Linked DNA regions of Homo sapiens: regions 1 and 2 are each linked to region 3. The links come from fine-mapping of genetic effects on gene expression. A gene starts in region 3. Each other region holds a variant in brackets. All regions are shown on one strand. Distances are from middle to middle. Region 1 overlaps PCMTD2 (protein-L-isoaspartate (D-aspartate) O-methyltransferase domain containing 2). Region 2 has its middle 48 kb from the start of PCMTD2. Region 3 holds the start of PCMTD2 (protein-L-isoaspartate (D-aspartate) O-methyltransferase domain containing 2).

The links.
Region 1: its variant is fine-mapped to the expression of PCMTD2 in whole blood (INTERVAL, PIP above 0.99). The same link has a PIP of 0.9 or more in subcutaneous fat.
Region 2: its variant is fine-mapped to the expression of PCMTD2 in whole blood (INTERVAL, PIP above 0.99).

What each region holds. Positions count from the first base shown.
Region 1 is chr20:64,275,806-64,283,992 of GRCh38, forward strand. PCMTD2 (protein-L-isoaspartate (D-aspartate) O-methyltransferase domain containing 2) reads left to right here. Exons shown (of 6, transcript NM_018257.3): 6 at 1-421. It also overlaps the pseudogene IL9RP5. Among named protein-coding and RNA genes, the nearest start is that of PCMTD2, 24 kb to the left of the region's middle. The variant C/A (reference allele first, on the strand shown) is at 3,390.
Region 2 is chr20:64,299,488-64,307,674 of GRCh38, forward strand. It overlaps the pseudogene SEPTIN14P20. Among named protein-coding and RNA genes, the nearest start is that of PCMTD2, 48 kb to the left of the region's middle. RefSeq lists enhancers at 2,744-3,244, 3,245-3,745. The variant T/A (reference allele first, on the strand shown) is at 4,084.
Region 3 is chr20:64,252,536-64,260,722 of GRCh38, forward strand. PCMTD2 (protein-L-isoaspartate (D-aspartate) O-methyltransferase domain containing 2) reads left to right here and starts at 3,213. Exons shown (of 6, transcript NM_018257.3): 1 at 3,213-3,335; 2 at 7,407-7,737. The coding sequence starts at 7,431.

The DNA of each region.
Region 1 (8,187 bases), 23 kb after region 3:
TATGTGACTTTTGTCTTGAAAAGTAGTAAAGCCATAGACTTGTGCAAAACAAGTTTCAAGTTTATAGATATTAAGTTTGTAATGTGAGCATCAAATGTGTATGTAAAAATACTTTTTACCAGTCTGGAACTTGGGAAAATCCAGGGAATTTGAAACATAGATTTTAATGAGCTGGTAAACACAAATCATGTCAATAAAGGTAGTCAGGATATTTTATCCTTAGCATTGCTTCTGCATCCTGTGTAGGATTCCAATTCTTGAATATGTTCTTTTCAAAATCTTAAGAAAAGAACCTTTTTTCTTTATTAACATCATGTGTTTACTTTCAGCAAATATTTGTATTACTGCTTGATTCTGTGACAGTCACAATAGATGTAGAGAAGGCATTATTTTTCATTAATAAATGTGAAATTGGAATGGACAAATGGAGAAGTGGCTGGCTCCAAGTACATAAGAGAATAGGGCCTTGAAGATTGCGGTTAACGTTTTTGGCATAATTTTCCCACATTCAACTTTCTAAGGGGCAGAAAATATTTTTTTTTCATTCTCAGTTATCTGTTCAGAGCACAGATGTTATTTAGATCTTGAAATTCTGGGACCAGTCTCCCAAAGAGCTTATGTTTTCTCTTTTATTGTATGTGCTTGTTGGGATATTTTTTACATTCTGCCTTCCAATTTTTTATTTTGGCAGTTATATATTTTAAGATAATTTCATGCTCTCTTTACTGATCTCTGAATTTTCCTTCCTGCTGTATTCGTCAGGGTTCTGTAGAGGGACAGGACTAATAGGATAGATATATATATATGAAAGGGAGTTTATTAAGGAGTATTGACTCACAGGATCGCAAGGTGAAGTCCCACAGTAGGGCATCTGCAACCTGAGAAGCAAGGAAGCCAGTCCGAGTCCCAAAACCTCAAAAGTAGGGAAGCTGACAGTGCAGCCTTCAGTTTGTGACTGAAGGCCCAAGAACCCCTTTCAAACCACTGGTGTCAATCCAAGAGTGCAAAAGCTGAAGAACTGGGAGTCCTGTGTTCGAGGGCCGGAAGCAAAGCATGGGAGAAAGATAGAGGCCGGAAGACTCAGCCAGTCCAGTCCTTCCGTGTTCCTCTGCCTGCTTTTATCCTAGTCGAGCTGGCAGCTGAATAGATGGTGCCCACCCAGACTGAGGGTGGGTGTGCCTCTCCCAGTCCACTGACTCAAATGTTAATCTCCTTTGGCAACAGCCACACAGACACACCCAGGAATGATACTTTGCATCCTTCAAGCCAATCAAGTTGACACAGTACTAATCATCACACCTGCATATACTGTTATTTTCTGTGGTTGCAGTACTATAGACTTTTCTGAGGATCCTAATTAGAATTTTTAAAAATTTTACTTCATCGGAGGTGGGAACGTGGATTCTGGCCCTTCCTTGAACAAAGAAGGAAACGGCCAGAAAGAGGAAGGGATGTGGGGACTTACTCCTCTAGAGGTGATTTATCAGTTTGATCATGTTGATCTTTCATTTCTTGCTGTATCTCTTTTTTTTTTTCTTTTTTAACTGTTGTTGGAGACTCACGTTTGCCTGTCTGTAATTACAAACCAGGCTGGAGTAGGGACAGTCATTGGCCAACCTCATAGTGGGATGAGGAGAGCTGGTCTTCAAGCCAGGGGCCTGGACATATGAAGGGTAATGGTCTCTGGGAATCAGTGAGCCTCCTTGATCCGTCTGCAGAAACCCCTTCCTTCTGGTTCCCTGCTGCTGCTGGGCATCAGGATGCTCTCCCACCATTCGAGCTCCTTGCAAACCTCATCCTAACCCTAACCCTGCTGTGCCCCAGCTCTCTGTCAGATGCCCGTCACCAGGGGCTCCACTTGCAACCTGACTCTGAACAACTGTGGACCTTGTGCTTATGTCTTTCCCTTCTCTTTCTCTTGGAGACAGAGATGCTCTGAACAACTGTGGACCTTGTGCTTATGTCTTTTCCCTTCTCTTTCTCTTGGAGACAGAGATGTAACCCATTGCTCCACTATGTTGGAACCAGAATGTCCAAATTAGCACTTGAGGTTCTGCATGAAAGAGGAAATAGCAGAAAGCGGGGATAGAGTCATAGACCACACGGGCAGGACGTCCCTTTGACCTAGGAGGGCCCTGGGCAGCTGGGCACTGGGTGGTTAGAGCAGGGGTGGAGTCATAGACCACACGGGCAGGACGTCCCTTTGACCTAGGAGGGCCCTGGGCAGCTGGGCACTGGGTGGTTAGAGCAGGGGTGGAGTCAGACCACACGGGCAGGACGTCCCTTTGATCTAGGAGGGCTCTGGGCAGCTGGGCACTGGGTGGTTAGAGCAGGGGTGGAGTCATAGACCACACGGGCAGGGCATCCCTTTGATCTAGGAGGGCCCTGGGCAGCTGGGCACTGGGTGGTTAGGTGGTTGTTCTGATGGTCAAGAGGGAGAACAGCATGAGCCCTGCCCCAGGCCTGTTGTTCTGTGTCAGAGATCAGGGCTGTCTTAATGCCCCATATCCCCCACCTGGCCAGCTCCCCCAGACTCAGAGGGCAGCAGCAGTAACTACTGTGCCTTGATCCGCTAAGGTGGTGGGGGCCACCCCTCTGCCATCCCAGGAAACACGCAGAGCCTGGGCCATCCCAGCCCTTGCCGGTAGCCTTTCCTGTGACCAGCAGGGCCCAGAGACTGTGTGAGGAGGTGCTTGGGTGGTAGCTGGTCACAGGCAGAGGCACGGGCTACATGAGGACCTCCAGGGGGTGTTGCTCACTCCTATCAGGTAGCAGGGTCACTCCTGAAAGTTCTAGAACCATGACTTAGCCAGCTGCATCATGTCCATTTTGGGGAAAATAAAATCTCTGGAGCTGACCCTTGGCTGGGACTGGACCTCCCAAGAAGTGGCACCTATGCAATGGTTAGAGGTCTGGTCCAGATGGAGGCTGAAGGCTCCTCCTCACCCACTCCACTTGGCACCTGTGGGGAGGGGCCACTGCCCTCAGCATCCTCTTCCCACAGCACTGCCACCCCTCCGCCCCAACACTTCCTCCTGTCCCCTTTCTGGCCTTATCCCTGGCCTCTCTGAGAAGAGGGATGTGATCCCACGGCCTGCCCTCACCTCCTTAAAGGGCCAGCCTGGGCCCAGTGGACACAGTTGAGACACCATCTTGTGCCTCTTCCTGTGCCTTCCTGAGGCACCTTTCCTAGAGATTAAAGGGACATAACGGCTGTTCCAAAGTGTTGATAGCTGGAGGAGGAGCCCGGGGAGATGTGAGGCACGGGGTTTGGGCAGCCCTGGGTTTTCCAGGCTCCAGTGACAGCAGGATGGAGGCTCAGGGTCAGCTCTGGGTACAGTGGGGTGGAGACTCAGGGAACATCTTCAGGGAGGCCACCTCCACCCCAT[C/A]CCTCCTGGTCCACAGAGATCTGTTGTCTCGAAGTTCTGAAGTCCAGAGTCTGGAATGAGGGTGTTGGCAGGGCCGGCCCTAGGGAGGCATCTGTTCCAGGGCCTTTCTCCAGCTTCTGGTAGTTTCTTTGCTTGTGACAGCAAAGCTCCAGTCTTCACAAACCTTCTTCCCTGTGCGTGTTTCTGTGTCCACATTCCCCTTTTGATAAGGACATAATCATCATGAATGAAGCATGGCCCTAATGACTTCCGAACTTCATCATTTGCAAAGACCCTATTTCCATATAATGCCATACTTGTAGGTACTGGGTGTTAGGGCTTCAACATATGAATTGTTAGGGATGGAACTCAACCTATAACCTTGTCCCTGCCTCTGCCAGTGATCTCCACATTCCTGCTGGCCCCAAAGGCACCATGGCCCCTTCCAGGGTGCCCCAGGCAGATCACGGGAGGGCCTGACTGCTGGGGATGGGGCTGGTGCTGGGATCCTCTGCCCAGTGAGGGCTGGGATGAGACTATTATGGGGTTGGGGGTGCTGAAGTTTTGAAGGCAGGGTAAAACAGAGGCTGGGTCCCTCTCTGGACCCCAGGCTCCAGGGAACACCTCTCCTGGGAGTTCCCATGCTCCCTGTGGCCTGGGCAAAAAAAAAAAAAAAAAGTACTTGCAGTCCGAGGCCCCCCAAAGGCAAAAGCCTGGCTCCGATAAGCATCCTCCCCACCCTGTGTGCCTTTCGAGCCCCTGAGGTTTGTGGGGAGTCTCAGAGGTTTTGTGGGGAGCCTCAGACCAGATCCTGGTCAGCAGGGTTGAGGCAGGCCTGAGAATGTATCTTTAGCATCCAGAGATTGGGAGGGTGTGGACGGAAGCAAGGTTCAGGCATCCTCAGCTCTAACTAAGTATCAAATACTAGTGTGAATCCACTTCCTGGAGCTGGCCTCTGGGGAGCCTTGGGTTGGTGTACATAAACAGGGTCTGCCTGATTCATCAGGTTTCTCATGGGGCCTGGACCACCTCATGATCACAAAAGTGACCGCACAGCTTCAATGCCTCTCCTGTGTGGGCTGGACACACGTTCATCTGACTCACAAACTTTCCCTGGGTGGCACCTGGAGCCCTGGCTCTGGGCTGGAACCTGAGTGTGAAGCCACTGGAGGCTGTGGGATTGCAGGTCAGGTGAGTCACTCAGCCACCTGAGCCTGGCCCTCCGCTCTGCACAGGGGACTAGCTATAGATAGCAGGGAGTTCACCTGAGCAAGACACCAGCACACGTTGGTGCTCAGAAAACTCTGATTTCCTTTTATTGAGATGGGACAACCCTTGGAGACCATGTGTCAAGGTCTGGATTACAGTAGGACAAGGTTCAAAGGGCCCTGTGAGCCCTGAGGTGTTGCTGATCCCTGGGTGTCTGTGAAGGCGAGAGAAGGTGACCTGGATCTGGAATGAGGAAACGGCCATGGGTTTAGGAGCTGGCAGACATGTGTCCAGAATGTGGTTGGCCAGGCCTAGACAGCGCTGGGCTGTGGAGGGCCTTGAACCCCAGGCTAAGGGAGCATGTGGGAAGAGGGCTCACCCTGGTGAGGGAATGCTGGGGTGGGATTTTGTTTTTTTATTCAGGTAAAATCCACATAATATAAAATTAACTGTTTTAAGATGTAAAATTCAGTGACATTGTGAACCTGCAAAATATTGTGCAACCATCACCTCTTAGTTCCAAAACCCCAAAAGGAAGCCCCCTACCTATTAAGCAGCTGCTACCCAATGTGCCCTCCCTCCGACCCCCGGCGACCACTAATCTGCTTTCTGTCTCTGTAGATTTACGTATTCTGGATATTCTCCATGAATGGAATCATGAAGTATGTGACCTTTTGTGTTCAGCTTCTTGCTTTTAGCATGTTTTGAGGTTCGTCCACATTGTAATGTCAGTGCCTCAACCCTTTTCACAGCCGAATATTATGCTGTTATAGAAATAGACCATATTTGACTTTCCTGTTCATTTGTTGGTGGACATTTGGGCTGTGTTTTGTTGTTGTTGTTGTTGTTTTTGAGATGGAGTTTTGCTCTTGTCACCTAGGCTGGAGTGCAATGGCGTGCCCTCGGCTCACTGCAACCTCTGCCTCCCAGGTTCAGGTGATTCTCCCGCCTCAGCCTCCCGAGTAGCTGGGATTACAGGCACCTGCCACCACTCCCGGCTAATTTTGGTACTTTTGTAGAGATGGGGTTTCACCATGTTGGCCAGGCTGGTCTTGAACTCCTGACCTCAGGTGGTCCGCCCGCCTCTGCCTCCCAAAGTGCTGGGATTACAGGCATGAGCCACCGCACCCGGCCTGTTTCCAACTTTTTAAAATTGTGAATAACACCGTTATAAACATGTGTATACAAGTTTTTGTTTGAATACCTCTTTTCCATTCTTTTATGTATATATATCTAGGAATGAAGTTGCTGGGTTCTATGGTAATTCTGTTTAGCGTTTTGCAGAACCACCAAACTATTTCCCACAGTGTCTGCACCATATGACATGCCCATCAGCAATGTTCACGTTTCTCTACTTCCTGACACTGCATGTTAGTTTCTGTTTCTTTCTTTTTTTGTAATAACCATTCTAATAGGTATGAAGTGGTATCTTTTTGTAGTTTAGATTTGCATTTCATTTCCCTAATGGTTACTGATGTTGAATATCTTTTCATGTGTTATTTCTGTATCTTCTTTGGAGAAAAGTGTCTTTAATTCTTCTGCCCATTTTGCATGGGAGGTGGGTGGGGGTTGTTTGTCTTTTTGTTCTTGAGTTGTAAGAGTTCTTTGTATATTCCGGATACTAGGCCACTGTCAGATTCTCAGTTCTCAAGCATCCAAAATGATTAACAAAATGACAATTTCTAGGGCTTCTGTGGGAGAGTATGGAAGGTCTTTTTGAACTTTTTAATGCTGTCAACTAAAGAATGATGAGGTTCATAAATATGGAAAGGAGAGATTTCTATATTTTTGTTTATTTTTATTTTTTTGAGACGGAGTTTCACTCTTCTTGCCCAGGCTGGAGTGCAATGGCGTAATCTTGGCTCACTGCAACCTCCACCTCCCAGGTTCAAGTGATTCTCCTGCATCAGCCTCTCGATTAGCTGGGATTACAGACCCTCACCACTATGCCTGGCTAATTTTTGTTTTTTTAGTAGAGATGAGGTTTCACCATGTTGGCCAGTCTGGTCTTGAACGCCTGACCTCAGGTGATCCACCTGCCTCGGCCTCCCAAAGTGCTGGGATTATAGGCACTGCACCCAGTGAGGTATTTATTTCCTGTAAAGGGTTGCAGCCTGCAGGGTAGTCCTTCTGATAGGCTGGGAAGCATAGCCTCCAGCCAGAAACTAGAAACAAGACACTTCAAGGAAGAGGTGAAGGAAACAGTAATTTATGCTGAGTGGCATGGCCAAATACACATCTTTAATAAGCTCTAGGCGGAGTCATGAATATTTATGAAAGGGGAAATGCGTGCATGCACAACTGAGTTCCTTGGTTCTTCATGGGTCCCATGTACAAAAAATAGCAGTGTTAGCATCATCCCAGGGTGGAGTTTTCAGCCCTCTGACATTAAAAGGTGAAGCAGAGGACATGAAAACTCGCTCTGTGCATCCTCTGTGTGCTGTCCAGAACCTCTCCGTCATGGGTGGTCTCTTATCAGGCAAGAAAGGAGAGGTTGATATCAGTGGTGATTTTGAAAGGGCTGGTTTCTGTTAAATCCTTAGGGAAGAAAGCCTCATCATGGTTTGCAAAGCAGGGGGTATAATGGGGTGTACCTGACTCCCATCATCCCATTCTGGCCAAGCTGAGAACTCAGTTTTGAAAGTTACTCTGGGGTCCCCTCAGCCAAGAGTGGGTCTGTTCAGTCAGCTGGGAGCTTAGGATTTCATTTTCATTTATCAATGCTAATGGGAATGAGCAGTCTATCTTCATGGCAGCTGAATTTGCAAGAAACTTCGTGGATGGGGTTAACGGCAGCTGTATTTTCTGGGCGCTCCATGGATGGGGTTAACGGCAGCTGAATTTGCAAGGAACTCCGTGGATGGGGTTAATGGCAGCTGTATTTTCTGGGAGCTGTGCTTTAATTGGATAAAGTAAGTTCTGGTAAGATTTCTTCCTTCATCTTCGGTATCTCAAATGTTTTCATTTAAATAATCTTTATAATAACTCTTGATGTCTGAGGGGGTTCCCACACAGTCATCTATTGTAAGACTTTCTGATTCCTTTTTTTCCTTTGGTCATTATGAATAGGGCTTCTGTACATAATTGCATGGTAGCTTTTGTTTGGAAATCACATCAAAGTGGTTGTCAAAATACTTAGGAATGTCGTTTTTGGATTGTAAGGAGAGACTTATTTAGCTTTGGAAAAAACTGCCCAACTTGTAATAGGTGAGGAAAAATAATTTTCTCTCTATCTTTTCAGAATTCTTAGATTGGACCCTCTGTAACAAATGACAGATTAAAATGAGAAAAATGTAGAAAAGTTTAAAAACATGTATACCTTATGGATACATGGGCGATACTCAGGGAAAAATGAGTAAATCTCCAGCAGGTGGTTTTCAATTCAAGTGTAAATACTATCTTCAACTTGAAGATTTGAGGCACAGTAGTGGGGAGTTAACCAGCAAAACCACATTAGACAAGAGTAACGTTTGTTATGCAGACTGAAGTCCATGCGTCCTCCATTGATAAGACTCTAGTGATTTAGTTATCCTTCTCTTCTTGGTGCCGAGAGAGAGGTAGCTTTTAAATGGGGATTTCCTTTATAGATGTAAATTTTCCTTACAGAAGG
Region 2 (8,187 bases), 47 kb after region 3:
TCCTGCCTTGGCCTCCCAACATGCTGATATTACAGACATAAGCCACAGTACCCGGCCAGTTTTCTTTTTTTAAAAATCTATTGGTTATTAATTTGAAGCCTTCCTTTTCATAGCTGTGCTCCTTAATTGGGAGCAAACATGAATGGACCACAACTTAGCCAATTTTCTATATACGATCTTTGCCATCCTAATTTAAAGGAATATTAATTCTTTCTTTTCCTCTTTCATTCCACAAACCTGTATTGACTACATCTAAGTTCTAAATGGTGCACTGGATGTTGAAAAAGTTGATGATGAGCAAGAACAAAATTCCACCTTTCAGGAGACTTACAGTTCAATATGGGAAATATAATTTGTTAAAATATAAAAGTGCAATTGTGTTACATGCTGTACGAAGTACATGTTGACATGTGAGCATATAATAAATGGGCTGGAGGCCAGAGGATTGCCAAAGAGAATGGGCCTCCTGCTGAGATGAAAAGTTGAGCAGGGATTAGTTGGCGAAAGTGGAGGGACGACCCTTTCTAGGCAGGAGGAAGAACATGTACAGAATCTCTGAGGTGTGATGCGACAAAGTCTATATGAAAAACTGAAGAAAGGTCTAATGTGGCTTAAATACAGAAGCCAGTAGGAGAGGAGTCGAAAAGAGGCTGGAGAAGTAGAAAGTGTCTGCATTCTGCAGGAACTTATATTGTATAAAAAGAATTTCTCTTTATTCTAAGTGCAATGTGAAGCCAATGAAGTGCCTTAAACAGGTGATGTGATTTGATTGAATTTATTACTTCACTTAACAAATATTCATTACATGCCCACTGTTTGTCAGATATTGCTGTAGCCCCTGGTGATACAGTAGGGAATAAAACAGGCAAAAATCCCTGTCCTCTTGCAGCTTATAATGGACTGCAATGTTTAATATGTCAGAGGAGGTCCACGGAGGAGTGACTTCTAAGCAAGAATCTGAAAAAAATGAGGATATCTAAGGAGGGAACAAATGGTTCAAAAGCCCTATAATTGCAAGCAGGCATGATGAAGCAATTGCAGTTGTCCTGACTCTCAACACCGTGGAACTCAAAGGAGATGGAAAGATTCTTTCTCTCCCTCATATATTTTCTCTCTGTCTATATATATAGAATATGAGACATTTCCCTAATCATTATGTGTAATTACAATTACATATATATATATATGTATGTAATATATAAACATATATATGTAATTGTAATTACACATAATGATTAGGGAAATGTCTCATATTCTACTCAAAAATAAGCAATATAGCAATTACTGTTTTTTACATTTTACAGTTACAGTTTCAGAGAAAGTTTGATATTTATCTAAAATTTTTCAATGTATGAACTTTTTCATTTGGCAAACCATAATTGTACATATTCTTGGGATACAGAGTGATATTTCTTTACATGTATAGAATGTGTAGTGATCAAATCAGGGTAATTTCCACTAATTTAAAATGCCACCTTTATGTTATTGTAATTTATATATATACTATATATATACACACACACATATATATATACATGTCCACATACAGTGTGTGTGTGCACATGTACACACATGCATATGTGTATATAATGCCCAGTATAAGCAATGTGCGCAAATAAAATTAGCTAACAGAGATAGTATAGAGTGAGAGGAGAGGCAGATTAATCTTTGAGGAAAAGCACAATTTTATGGCTGAATGGAGAAAGCTGAGGTGGTTTCTAAGATGGAGAATAAGATGAAAAATGTAAGTACGTTGTTTGACTGAATTCAAGAAAGAAGGGTAAAAGAGAAGAAAGTAGTGGTCTTATCATTAAATGCCACAGAGAGGTAAAGATAAAAACAACATATTGTTTTGGGTTTAGTAATTTAAGGGTTACCAAATTCCGTTTTGGAGGAGGAACAGATTCCATGTCCACTAGAATGGAATGAACAAGAAATGGAGGAGGAAAATAGGTAGTTTTTCAAAAGTTTTCAAAAATATGAAAAGAAGAAATGAAATGGTACTTGGAAGAGATTGTTGAAATGGGAGAGACTATGGTGGCTTGTTTAGAAGCAGTTGAGATAGATCCAATTGAGATAGAGATATTGACTATATAAACAAAAGAATGACAAATTAATAGTGTAATGGATAACTTGACTTTGGCAAATATTGTGAATTTTTGTGAAAGTACAACTAAAAGGCAATGTCACTCCAATAATCACCAGAGTAATCAATTTGCTTATTGCTGTCCCTTTAAATATAGTTCTCTGGTATCAACTAACATGTTTTTAACTAATGATGCTTCTTAAAGAAAAGGGAAAAGACCTTTTTCTTTCTTTCAGTCTTCAATGATTCACTGCTTCATCTCGCTCCACCAAAGATAAATGAAATCTACATCTCTTATACATTAACAATGCATGACAATTTATAAATAGCTAAATTTTTGGAGCTAACTTGAAGTACCTGAATGGAATTTAATCAACCCACTAATCTCCTTCTCACTTCTCAGTTATTTATCAAGTTTATGTCAAGGGACAAGGAAAAATTATCCAAACATTGTTTAAAACAATCATCATTAATTAGTAACACTTATCCAGGGGGGTTTTTAACCTTTCCCCCACTCAAGGATTATTCTAATGTCAGAGTAGAATAAAAAATAAGTGCAGCGATGCTGACTCTTCCAAGCTTAACATTTCTCACAAGTCAATTAGCTTTGTACTGGGAGGAGGGCGTGAAGGGCTGCTTGCGGTAGTTGTGTAGCAGCAGCACAATGGCCGCAGACAAGGAAAACAGTTTCTAGGAATTCCTCGTATATAATTTTATATTTTTGACAAGATTAATGACCCATGCTCCCTTCCTCTCCATTTCTTTTTTTGGAATTCTGTTGGTATGTAGTTACTATATTTTATTAAAGGAAATTAGCCTTATCTCTTATTATATTTTATTAAAGAAAATTATTATTCCTTTATATTTTTATTAAAGGATTTTATTATTATTATTAAAGGAAATTAGCCTTATCTCTTATTATATTTTTATGACCTTCAAAGTAGTGTCTCTGCTTAAAAGTGTACCTTGGCCGGGCGTGGTGGCTCACACCTGTAATTCCAGCACTTTGGGAGGCCGAGGCGGGTGGATCACGAGGTCAGGAGATCAAGACCATCCTGGCTAACACGATAAAACCCCGTCTGTACTAAAAATACAAAAAATTAGCAGGGCATAGTGGCGGGCGCCTGTAGTCCCAGCTACTCGGGAGGCTCAGGCAGGAGAATGGCGTGAACCCGGGAGGCGGAGCTTGCGGTGAGCTGAGATCGCACCGCTGCACTCCAGCCTGGGCGACAGAGCAAGACTCCGTCTCAAAAAAAAAAAAAAAAGTGTACCCTGAAGCACACATCAAGCGACATGTAGAGTTCATAAATTCTGGCCAAATGGTCATACCTCAAACCTCATCAGCACTAAGGCTCTTTACTTGCACTGACAAATGTGAACGCTGGGGAATTTGGAAATGATATATAATAGATATATAATATATAATAGATATATAATATTATATATGTAATAGATATACAATATATAATATATATATAATAGATATATATTATATATAATAGATATATAATATTATATATATAATAGATATATAATATATAACTTTCCATGTGATTTTCCTCTTAATTTTTTTCTAGCTGATCCATATGAATTCCTCTTATTAAGAAAAATAAAGCATCCAGGATTCAATGAAGAACTATCACCTTGTTAATCATTCAGAAACATATTGCAGACTTAAGCCATTTTTGATACAGATACTGAAACAATTACTTTCTAAGAGCAAACTTGAAGGTATGGATAAGGCCCTGAGTCATCTTCCTGAGCTGAATGATAGTTAAGCTGAATGTACGTATAAAATATGATTTTCTAACCACTTGCTCGCCAACAAGGAAAACTTTTAAGTAGAGCAGAACCTGAATAGACAAGACATTTCTTTCTTTTGGTAGAAAATGATTTACCATCACTGTGTAGTTAATTGTAGACTAGGTAATTTTAACTGTGATTTATTGCCGGAGACATTTTCTTCTGTACTGTAAAGTGTGTGTCAAAAAAAAAAA[T/A]AGCGATTTTGGAGGATTAGGGGAGTTTGATAAATTGCCTGCAATTCTGGCAGTATGAACTGCATATTAATTTCTCTCTTTCTAGAACATTTTTATTTATTAATTCCTTACAAAAACTCCCTAAACTTTGGAACAGCTCTCAATTGCCTGTATTCTTTTTTTTCTTATTATGGTACTCTTCTAGAGATTTGGCTTGCATCTATGAATAAGCCAGGACATCTTCAGAAATTGTCTGATTAAAAACACCACCAATGGAGTTTCATTAAATTTGTATTGATCTGACTAGTGAAACACACACATCTATGTTGCTGAGGATATTTTACTGCAGTTTGAGTTGTAATAATAGCTCTGTTTAAGATCCGTCAGTCACTTGAATCTTCTCTAAGGCTTTGGATGTTAGAAGTTAATTTGCTTTCTTACAAGGCCACATTCTATCTTGTAACTAAACAACTGAATTTTATGTCTTAGCGTAGATGGTTTATTACTTTCTGGTTTTTCTTTAGTAAGAATCCTATAAAAACACTAGTATTTTTCTCTGAGTTTAAAATTCAACACATGCCTACTGATATGGTTAGGCTTTGTATCCCCACCTGAATCTCATCTTGAATTGTAATCCCCATAGCCCCCATAATCCCCACAGGTCAAGGGAGAGACCAGGTGGAGGTAATTGAATCATGGGGGCAGTTTCCCCTGTGCTGTTCTTGTGATAGTGAGTTCTCACGAGATTTGATGGTTTTATAAGGGATTCTTTCCCCTTTGCTCGGCACTTCTTCATGCTGCCTTGCGAAGAAGCTGGCTTGCTTCCTCTTTGTCTTCCGCCATGATTGTAGATTTCCTGAGGCCTCCCAAGCTGTGCTGAACTGTGAGCCAATTAAACTTCTTTCCTTTATAAATTACCCAGTCTTGGGCAGTTCTTTATAGCAGTATGAAAACAGATAAATACACCTACTATGTAAAACTTAAAATACAAAAAAAAAAAACATTATCTCACTAACATAGGAGCTAATATTTTGGTGTACTTTGTTTAGTATTTTATATTAAAAATATGTACATATATATTTATATATAATTAAGAACATGTATGTACAATCGTGCATACATCATGTACATACATCTACTTAAGAAAATAGCTATGTAATATACCATTACTCAACTAGATTATAATTTTTCTCCATTTCTTTATTGTAATTTATCATTTTCTACTTTTTTGTTTTCTCATTTTTATTGCATATTTAATTATGCAAAAAATACATTAAATACATTGAAAATATATAGTGTAGCTATAAGAATAAAGAACGATGGTAAAACAAATGCTAATACCCACTACCTGACTTAAAGAATATGATACTATTTTTTTCCAATTGAAATCCCCTCAACTACTCAGAATTACTGCTATCCCTTTTATCCTTTCATTAATTTTCTTCTAGTTTTCTCACATGTGAATCTATTTCTAAATACATTTCTTTATTTTGCAAGTTTTTGGACTTCATATAAATGTAACCATATTGTATATATTCTTCTTCAGCTTCTTACTTTTTCACTAAACAATATGTTTTGCTGATACTTACATTCATATGTACAGTAATAGTTGATTTATTTTAATGGCTATATATTATTCCATTGTTAGAATACACCAGGATTTATTTTTACTTATTTTTTTTGCTGGAAAATTGGGTGTCTTTTTTATTTTTTGATATAACAAACAATGTTGTAATCATTTTGTATTTACTTCCTAGTCCACTCCTGTAAGTTTCTCTTGAGTACATACTAGCAATGAAGATGCTGAGTCACTGCATATACATACTCACAACTTTATTCTATAATGTAATATTCTATAAAGTAGCTGTATCAGTTTATACTTTAACCAGTAATGGACAAGATTTTCTGTTACTTCCCATCTTTGTTAATTATTACTTTTAGACTCTAACTTTTATCAGGCTCATGGATGTAAAAAGCATCTCAGGGTGTTTTTAATTTGCATTTATCTGCTCATCTATGAAGATGAGCTTCTTTTCATATAATTATGAGTCATTATTTTTGTTTTGCCTTCTTTTGTTTATGCATTTTGCTTGTTCTGTGTCTTATTTTTCCTGTTGATTTTTGGGAGTTCATATATATTCTAAATGTATATTCACTCATATATATGTTGCAAATATTACAGTTTATGATTTGTCACCTTATGATATCATCCAAATAGAGAAGCTTTATATTTTGATGTAGTCATATGTTCATTTTTCCTCCTTAATGTTTGTTTTTCTTGGTTCTATGACCTACCAAAAGTAACAAAAATTCTCATTTATTTTTAATCTAAATGTTTTAAGTATTTTCCTGGAATTCACCTTGAATTGATTTCTATTGGAGATAGGTATCCAATCTAATTTGCCTCATATGGATAACCACTTGTTCTATTACTGCTGTAACAAATTTCTACAAACTAAGTGACCTAAAATAACACAAACTTGTCATCTTACAGTGTACACAAGTCAGAAATCAGGCATGAATTTTAGTGAACTAAAATCAAGTTGTCGACAGGCATGTTTCTTTATGGCGGCTAGGGTAGAATCCATATCCTGGCCTTTTCTATCTTCTAGAGAACATCAGCATTCCTTTTCTCATTGCCTCTCCTCTCTCTTTTTAAAGCTGGCAATGTCACATTTCTCTGACCATTCTTTCATTGTCACATCTCTCTCTGGACTCAGCTAAGAAAGGTTCTCCATTTTTAAGAACTCATGTGATTAGACTGGGCCCATCTGGATAACCCAGGAAGATCTCTCCATCTCGGTTTGCATCCTTAATCACATCTGATAAGCCTTTATTGCATTCAGTGTAACATATTCACAGGTTCCAGGGTTAGGCATGGGCATCTTTGCGGGCCATTATTCTCCCTACCACATTATTTGCCTAGCATCTTTCATTACATTGTCCATCTATTTACTTACTGATTTCTAATGACATCCAAATCAGTTACAACATTTTATGTAAGCATTGTTTTTATTTTTATGTTATTCCACTAGTCTATTTTTCTACTCATGAATTATGGTACATGAGTTTATTTTTGCAACTTTAAGCTCAATAACATGTTTTAAGATTTCCTCAACTTTCTTTTTCCACTTCTTCAGAAGTTGACTCTTTTGGCCCTTTGGTCTTCTATACACATTTTAGAAATGCTTTGTTGAGGACTAAGAGGAATGCTAAGATTTTGATAGGAATTTCATTGAATTTTGAGTATATTGGCATGCTACAATGGTTAGTGTTTTATACATGAAAATAATATATCCCTTCCTCTTTTCCTAGTATCATGAGATGTTTGTTAGGCAGACATGAATATTGAGTTGTATCAAATGTGTTTTTCTGCATTATTGTGGTAGTGATGTGATTTAGCTCCTTTAATTAGTTAATGTAATGAATTACATTTGTAGATTGCTCTAACTATTGAAACAAGCTTGAATTTCTGGAATAAGCCCAATGTGATATTTATTCAACAAATATTCATTGAGTATACCTAGTATGTAACATGCTTTAAGAATACACCAGTGAACCAAACAGAAATATCTGACATTACAGAACTTAACATTCCAGTATTTGGAGACAGACGATAAAAAAGTGAACATGTATATTTACAGTTTGTCAAGGAATGATAAATGAAGACTCTTAAAGTAGATGGGGAATTGGGAGTGAAGTCTGTAATTTAAATAGGGTGGGCAGGAAAGCTTCACAGAGAATGGGACATTTAAGAATAGACTTGAAGGACAGGCAAGAGCAATCTCTATGTTTATATGGGAGAAAAGGTTCCAGGCAGATGCAGTAACAATGGCAAGTATCCTGAAGTAGGATCATGCTGGAGTTTTTGTGGAGCATCAAGGAGGCTAGTGTGACTGCCACAGAATCACCCAAGGGAAGATGAGAAGATCAGACCAGAACAGCACTTGGGCATCTAATGGGAAAAGTTTCTCAAGCCATCATAAAAATTTCACTTTTACTATAAATACTACGAGAAACCATGGGATGTTTTACAGTAAGAAAGGTGGCATAATATGTTACATGTTTTAAACAAACTCTATAGCTTCTGAGTTGAAATAGATTGTAGGGGCTCATGGCAGAAGC
Region 3 (8,187 bases):
TACACTTAAAAATGGTTCAAATGATAAATGTTTTGTATACTTTACCATAGTAAGAATAGTGTATTTCGAAGACAACAACACAACCTCCCACATGTGGCTCTAGCTACTTGCTCCCCAGATACCCAGCCGCACCCCTGCCTCAGGCCCTTGCATGACCTTCCCTCCGTCCGAGGCTCCTCCTGCAGATACAACACAGATGAGTGGAGAGATGCAAGGGGATAGGCGAGGGGACACTGAAGACATACTCAGAAAGCTCCCCGTGGCTGGGTGTGGGAGAAGCCTGGAGGAGGGTGACAGCAGCAGTTGGATTCCCATCCACCTTCCTGTGCTTACTACTAGCTGGTAAGTACAAGAAGCCAGCGAACCTCTTGCAGTTTCAGTTCCCTCATCTGTAAAATGGAGGTATCAGTGTCGTCAAGCCAAAGGCTGCCAGGAACCTGCCTGTAATTGAATGAGTTGGGATTATCACTCATTGCAGCGAGAGGGATGCAGATCATGGAGAACTGCAAGGCATCTCAGTAAGAGGTGTCGGGAAAAGTTACTAAAGGTTATGGGCTTGAGTTGGGTGATTTTTTTCATGGATTAGATGCTGTCAGGAATTGGGGGAGTGGATGGGGGGAAAGGGTGGTTCTCTGGGCATCTCAGTAGATGTTATCTGTGAGGAGGCCAGGGCAGAGGGAGGCTCAGCTGTAGCTGGTAGAGGAGCGGGGGTCATTGTTACTAACTTGGAGATGATATGTCTTAGATTTTGTGGGTGGCACAGTTACCCTGTTTTTGTTTGTGCTTAGACAAAATTATGACGTGGCCTTGGATCATGATGGTGCTCCTCTACAAAATTATTTATGTCCAACAGGAGACCCCATGGCCTCGATCTGAGTGCCAGGCCAGCTCCTGATGTCACGGTCCACTTTTCTTCTTGGAGGTCATACTAGTACCTATTTCATGGAAATAACCCATGTAGAGTGCTCAGTATATACCCTGTGAAGGGTTATGAATGCTGATGGTAGTGGAAGCTGATGTGGAGGGGAATGGTGGAGACACCTTGGAAAACCAAGCAAGAGTCTGAAGTTGTGGCAGGCCGGGTCTCACTAACGCAGGCCTCCATTACAGCTGTCCCAGCACGGACTGAGTAGCCAGGTTAAACATTAAAAGCTGATTGAGCCAATGCCCTTATACAAAGGTTGGAATGTAACAAAGAGCCCACCAAGAGTTTTGCCTAGGCTCTTCCTGGGCCTTGAAGCATGACAAGATAACGAAGGAACTCTTAACAGGACCCTTTTTAGGATTAAACAAGTTGTATTAGGGATCTGAAGAAACTCCCCAGGCCTCCACAAACAAGTTTATGGGGGTCTAAAGGAATTCCCCATATCATTATGATTTAGCAGGAGACAAGATAAGGGTAATCACCCCAGCACCTAGACCCATTTAGATTAAGTAAACTTACTGAGGCTCCAGAAGAGGGTCTTCAGGACTCAACCTTAGTCATAGATTAAAAGAAGTTAATCACTTATGTCTGTAGATGAATGCACACTTACATGTAGACATACAGCTTAGAAGGTATACGAGCTTTGGAAAACTTTGTAATTTTGAGTTGGTATGGTGATAATTTCCAGGCCTTCTCCTTGTAACCGGTTACAGAAATAAAACCTCTCTTACTCTCCAGCTCATTTGCATCTTGTTATTGGGCCAGGAGAAGTAGTAGCCCGACCCTCAGTTGGGTCCAGGAACAAAGGGAGTGTCTGAAGACAGCAGTGATGTGATCACCTGTTTTAGGAGGACCACTCGCCAGAGCCCAGGGGAATGGTGGGAGGGGTGGGGAGAGGTGAGGGGAGCTGGGACAGGGCAAGGAGGGATGTATGGAGGACGTGTCCCCTGGCAGTAGGAAGAGAGTCAAGGATGACTCCAGGGCTTCTGTAATTTGAAACAGTCACAAATAACCACAAGCTCTCAGGTGGAAGGACACTGAGAGCCCCATGAAGGTCATGAGGTGGTGGGCCACCTCAGGTCCGTGGATCCAGGACCATGGATCAACAAGAGAAGTGAGGTCTCCCTGGGACCACATAACGTGGTGAAGGCACCGGCCTTTGGTTTTCAAACTCTGCTCCTAAGTGGAGCTCCAGGGTCTGGGGAGGAATGCCGAGTTAGGAGGGAGGCGGGAACCGGAGACCCAGGCCCACTCGTCCGCCCCAGCGACGCTGGCACTTGCACATATGAGGCGGCTTGCATGGCTGTGCTTGAAGAAAGGGTTCTGCAGCTACAGCCTATCTGCAAAGCCCCACGCGAAGTTTGGGCAATGGGCTGTGTGAACCCAGAAAATGGGAGACAGGTCTCAGTTAATTTACAAAGTTTATTTTGCCAAGGGTGAGGACGCGCCCGTGACACAGCCTCAGGAAGTCCTGACATGTGCCCAAGGTGGTCGGGGCACAGCTTGGTTTTATACATTTAGGGAGACAGGATACATCCATCGATACATGTAAGAAGCACATCGGTTCGGTCTGGAAAGACGGGACAACTTGAAGCAAAGGCAGGAAGACTCCAAGCGGGGAGGGAGCGTCCAGGCCACAGATAGGTGAGACACCAACGGTTAAATTCTTTTGAGTTTCTCATTTGCCTTTTCAAAGGAGGCAAATCAGATATGTATCTATCTAAGTGAGCAGAGGAGTGACTTTGAATGGAATGGGAAGCAGGCCTGCCCTAAGCAGTTTCCTGCTGGAGTTTTCCTTAGTGATCTTGGGGGCCCAGGATATCTTCCTTTCACAGCTGATTTCACAAAGCCGGCTGGGTAGGAGGGCCCCAGGGCCGGGTGGCCGTCCGCGTGGCAGGGCGGGGGTCCCAGGGCGGCTGTGCTTGGTGCTGGGAGGCCGCCCGAGGGCAGCGCCGGCCCCGAGTCAGCAGCCGCAGGGCACCCTGGAGATGCGGAACGCCCCCAGCCGTGGGTCAGCAAAGGCGTCTCAGGTGACCCTTAGGGAGGGCTTCTGAGGCAGCCCGTGCGGGGTCCGTCCTGGCTGAGCACTGCGCGGACGGCGCGCCCGCGAGACTCGGACCCGGCCTAGGGCTCAGCGAGCTCTCAGCGGGGCGGGCGGACGCAGGCAGCCCAGGGGAGTGGGGCCCGCCCTGCGCCGCCATCACCCCTTTAAGTGCCAGGCCCGCGGCGCATGCGCAGTCAGGCCGTTGTGCGCAGGCGCAGAGGCGGCGGCGGCGGCGGCGGCGGCGGATGTTTACGGCGGCCGAGGTTGGAGCGGCGCTGCTCGGCCGCGGACACACGAGGGACGCGCCCGAGGAGCTGCAGGTGGCAGCCCAGGCGGTCCGAACCCGTCGGCCGGCCGAGCCTGGAGGTAGAGCCGCCGCCGCCGCCGCCGCCCCTCGGTCCGGCCTGCGGCGAGCGGGTGGTGTGTCCCCTCGGCCCCTTCCCTCCTCCTTCCCCACCCCCGGCACCCCTGCGCCCGGAGCTCTCCTCTGGGGGCGTCGCTCCTCCCCACCTCGGGCACCCTCACCTCCCCCCAGCGGCCTCCAGGGCGTCCCGCGTTTCTCTCTCCGAGCGCTCGCGGTTTCCCGTCGGTCTCTCCCGGTGCCCGTTGCTCACTCACACTCTTGGGTCTGGTTAGTCCAGACCTGCAGCTTGTCTTTGACTTCCCAAGTGGGAAACGTTTGCAGTTCCAAGGCAAGCCAAGAGCTAAGGTTTAGAACAAAGTCTGCCTTGGACCCTTTCAGAAGATGACAGGATTTTTTAAAAAAATAATTGCGCCCCCCCGCCCCGTGCCTTGGAGATAGTAAGAATTGGAGCAGAGCACTGGGACTTCAATTCACGCATGGAAAGAGATCTTTGTTAGTTGGAGGAAGGAGAACTTGCCTGAGCTTCGGGCCTTTGTTTTGTTTTTGTGAGAGGGACGTGTCTCCTAAATGAATGTTTGCTCCAGCGTTGCACCTCAAATAAGTCACCTAAATATCCACGCCCTCTTTATCCACCCCCTCTTTACTCGTGTGACTAGAATAGTTTTCATTTTTCTTCTCAAGGGAATGGCTAAACAGCTCCTATCTGGGCGTTTGATAGACTGTCATTCAAGAATGAGTGAAGTTGAGGTGCCTATAAGCAACTCAGAAATTGTTGTGGCCACGCTTGGGGGAAATAGAGCCCTACACTCAGGTGATGAGAGGAGACCTCAGAGGTGACCGATCCAGGGCCTTGCTCCCTGCGCCACCCCAGCTCGTACCTCCAGTGGAACTTGGCTGGGCTTATCAAGAGCTCCTTTCATTCATTGCAACTTCATTTGTTAGAAAGCTTCTCTGTGTATTTAGTAGGCATTGTCTCCAACATGTACCACTGGTCTGGCTTTTGTTAGGCCCATTAATAGTGTACATGTGACAGCCTTTCAAGTATAGGTGCTCCCCGGCTTACGGTGGGGTCGCATCCCAGTAAACACATCGTTAAACCTGAAGTCGAACCATCCGAAGTCGGAGACCATCTGTATTTGAAAAAAGTCCCTTTGCATTGCTTGTAAGAGTTCTGGTTTTCAAGGTGAGAAATCTGTTTGTGTGTTTGTTTGATCATTCTGCCCAAAGGAGATGTGGCTTTGGGTCCTTTTCCCCACTCATCTTCCACAATGAATTACTTTGTCCATATTACCCTAAAGAAGTGACATCCAAGTTGGAATGTGATCTTCCGTATGTCGCCTCCCAAAACCCCACTACCATAGCTTCATGCTTGTGTTGACACAGCCACAATCACAACTCAGGTGTCAGTTCTGAGACCTTCCCATGCCTGTCGCCACTCAGCAAGTGTTCTTCATGTGCCCTGGCAGTTCGCATTGTAAGGAGCAGCCAGGTTGTTATGGACTGTTGCTAGTTACCACAGAGTAGTGAATTATATTAAGGATTAATTACAGCAGACAATGTGCACAGTATCATCGAGTGCAGCGTTCTAAAAATGATTCTACACTTTTACTTTGAAAAATTGGATTTGACCAGATTGTAGAATCTGGGTGAAAATGATAGGATTTGGTTTGGCGAAGAGCTTTGTTGTCGGTGTTTTTGGTGACATCATGACTGATCATATCGATGGTTTTCAGTGCGAGGGAGTGTTAGATTACCAGACAAAGATGGTAATAAATATCAGACCCCACAGCTATTCACATGGATCCTACCAGTGGCAATAGGTATAGATAGGGTTACCCCATCGTCAAAAGGTTACCGGTGTGTTGTGTGGTAAAGAACGTTGCTGTCTTGAGTATTTTTAAAAGCTGCACTGGTGTGGTATTAAAAACACAGGCCTTTTGCCATACAGTCCTGGGTTTGAATGCAGCCCCCTCCTCACAAACTGGCTATGTGATCATGAACAAATTAACCGGCCAGCTCCAATTTGCTTCTTAATGTTGTGAAGTGTAAATGAGGCCATGACTGGCAGGTGGTACCTGGAAAAAGGTGCTTGTTTTTACTAAAAAGCTGTCTGAACTTTCAAATTAAGGCAGAGTTCAAAATAAGTGATAGTTACTTAGTGGAAAATGAAACCTATCCAACATACAGTTTGAGGTTACCTTCTAGAGATGTGGCATTGAGACAATGTTGGAACATTATATACAGGCTTCTGGGTGAAGAGGTGGCTTTGACTGAGGACGGTATGCGATTTTCCAGCTCTTTTCCTAAATAGACCCTTAAGCATCCAAACACATGATTCCGCTTTTAACCACTGACCCAAATTTTAAGATGACTGTGGTAGGCTAGGGTGCAGCCTCAGAACTGAGTGGCTTATCCAGGATTAAAGTTGACCTCATTAGGACTTAATTCCATCTAAGTCTAAGTCAGCTGGCTGTGGACCGTAATCTAACAAGGGCTCCGAAACAATTCAAAAAATTCAAAAAGGGTGTGAAAATTTAATGACTGGACCATCCTATTGATTTGCAAAACCTAATATTCAGCTCTAAAATCTTGAGTGTGAAGATTGAGTGTTCCACCATAAAAATAGAAGAGAATTTGTGTTAAGCTATACCCTTCACACTTTTTGTTCACTTGTAAGAAACTATGTGATTATTTTCATTCCTGGGAAAACCTCCCACCGCTGTCTCCAGTTGTGTACGTGGGTGTGTATGAAATCCGCCCCAGGCCCCTTGTCACCCCACAGTATTTCTTTACGATCCTCATTCTACTGTTAGAAATCCAGAGGAATGTGAGGAGGAAAGCAAGTATAAACTTCATCATAATTATAACAAGTTGTTAAAAAGGTTGTGTTCATTTCAGAAAATGTCTTCATGAGGTCTGGTGGTCTTTTTCCCTGACAATTTGTATCTGGTGTTTTGTAAAGCATTACCATTTTATATGAAGTTAAAGCAGTTACTTTGAAAAAGTTACATGGGGTAAGTATAAAATTGGAAAGGATATTTTTGTAGTTTTAAGAAGAGTAAGACTTCTCCGCGTGAAAAAGTGTTTTCTTGTGAATTAGCTGAAGCTACCCTGTATTTTAATAGTTAGGCTCAGAGGTGACACATGCTGTGCTTTTTCTTCTTGAAGGCAGGTTGGGAGAAGGTAAGACAAGTAGTTGTTATTTTTAAAGAGCTGGGAAAGCTGCGTATCATGCAATTGAGGAGGGGCTGTAGGAAGTTCTGGTAGCAGCCCCTCCTACACTTAAACTTTAGCCAGGAAGCTGATTTTGCATTTGTTAGAAAAAGGTATTTGTCACAGTACGTTCAATTTGGGAAGAGTGTTTTCTTGCTGTTTTTGTCTAAAATTTGAACATCAAAATATCCAAATCAACAGGTCAGATGGATTGCTTGACTTGGGTGGGTACTTTTGTGTATGTTGGGGATATAGAATTCCCAGATGTAATATAGGACACCACCTAAAGTTTTTTTTCTTTTCTCTTTTTTTTTTTTTTTTTTTTGAGACAGAGTCTTGCTCTGTTCCGCAAGCTGGAGTGCAGTGGTACGAGCTCTGATCACTGCAACCTCTGCCTCCCGGGTTCAAGTGATTCTTCTCCCTCAGCCTCGCCAGTAGCTGGGATTACAGGCATCCACCAGCATGCCTGGCTAATTTTTGTATTTTTTAGTAGAGACGGGGTTTCACCATGTTGGCCAGGCTGTTCTTGAACTCCTGACCTCAGGTGATCCAACTGCCTCGGCCTCCCAAAGTGCTGGGATTACAGTCATGACCCACCGCACCCGGCCTAAATTTGAATTTCAAATAAACGTCAAATAACTTTTAGTATTGTTGTTTACCTTAATTTCCAATTGAACTGGGATTTTTTTTCCTTCTAAATCTGGCATCTCTGGGTGGGGCAGGGGATGAGGTGGGTGTTGACAAAAGATAATCTATTATTTTCAGAATTCAGAATTTCAAATTGGTATCTGTTTAGAACTTCTATTGTTCTGCTCTTACCTTTAACATAAATCGCTCTTTTTAAACATTTTTAATTATAGTATTGCCTAAGTGTAATCTTGAACATGGGCGGTGCTGTGAGTGCTGGTGAAGACAATGATGAGCTGATAGATAATTTGAAAGAAGCACAGTATATCCGGACTGAGCTGGTAGAGCAGGCTTTCAGAGCTATCGATCGTGCAGACTATTATCTTGAAGAATTTAAAGAAAATGCTTATAAAGACTTGGCATGGAAGCATGGAAACATTCACCTCTCAGCCCCGTGCATCTACTCGGAGGTGATGGAAGCCCTAGATCTGCAGCCTGGACTCTCGTTTCTGAACCTGGGCAGTGGCACTGGGTATCTCAGCTCCATGGTGGGCCTCATTCTAGGTAAGTGTGGAAGGAGAGTCTGAAAACTCATCTGTCTCAGGGAAGGAGGCATCTCCTTTGACAGAAAATGTAGTCTGCTAATGGCCTGCCTGGGTCGAGACCGCAGCCTTCCCAGTAGTTATCTGACATTGACACATCACTGGGTGGTGGATAGAGGGATGAGGGAGGAAGGCCTGCATGCATCTCATGGGCCCCGGATTCTCCAGAGGGACCTCTCCTGTTCTCTGTCCCCTCTTCCTGTGCTGCCACAGCCTGTACTGCGCACCTGCCCTCTGGACAGCGGAGGATAAAGACAGTTGTGTAAATCTTGACCCCACTGTGATTTCTCGATTTAATTTTATCACTCATTCTTCCTTGTCACTCCTTCTCTAAATCGATGGTAATTAACTTGAAAGTCCTTTCGGAGTACTTCTAAGCAGTTTTTGTTTTGTTGGTTTTTTTTTTTTTTTT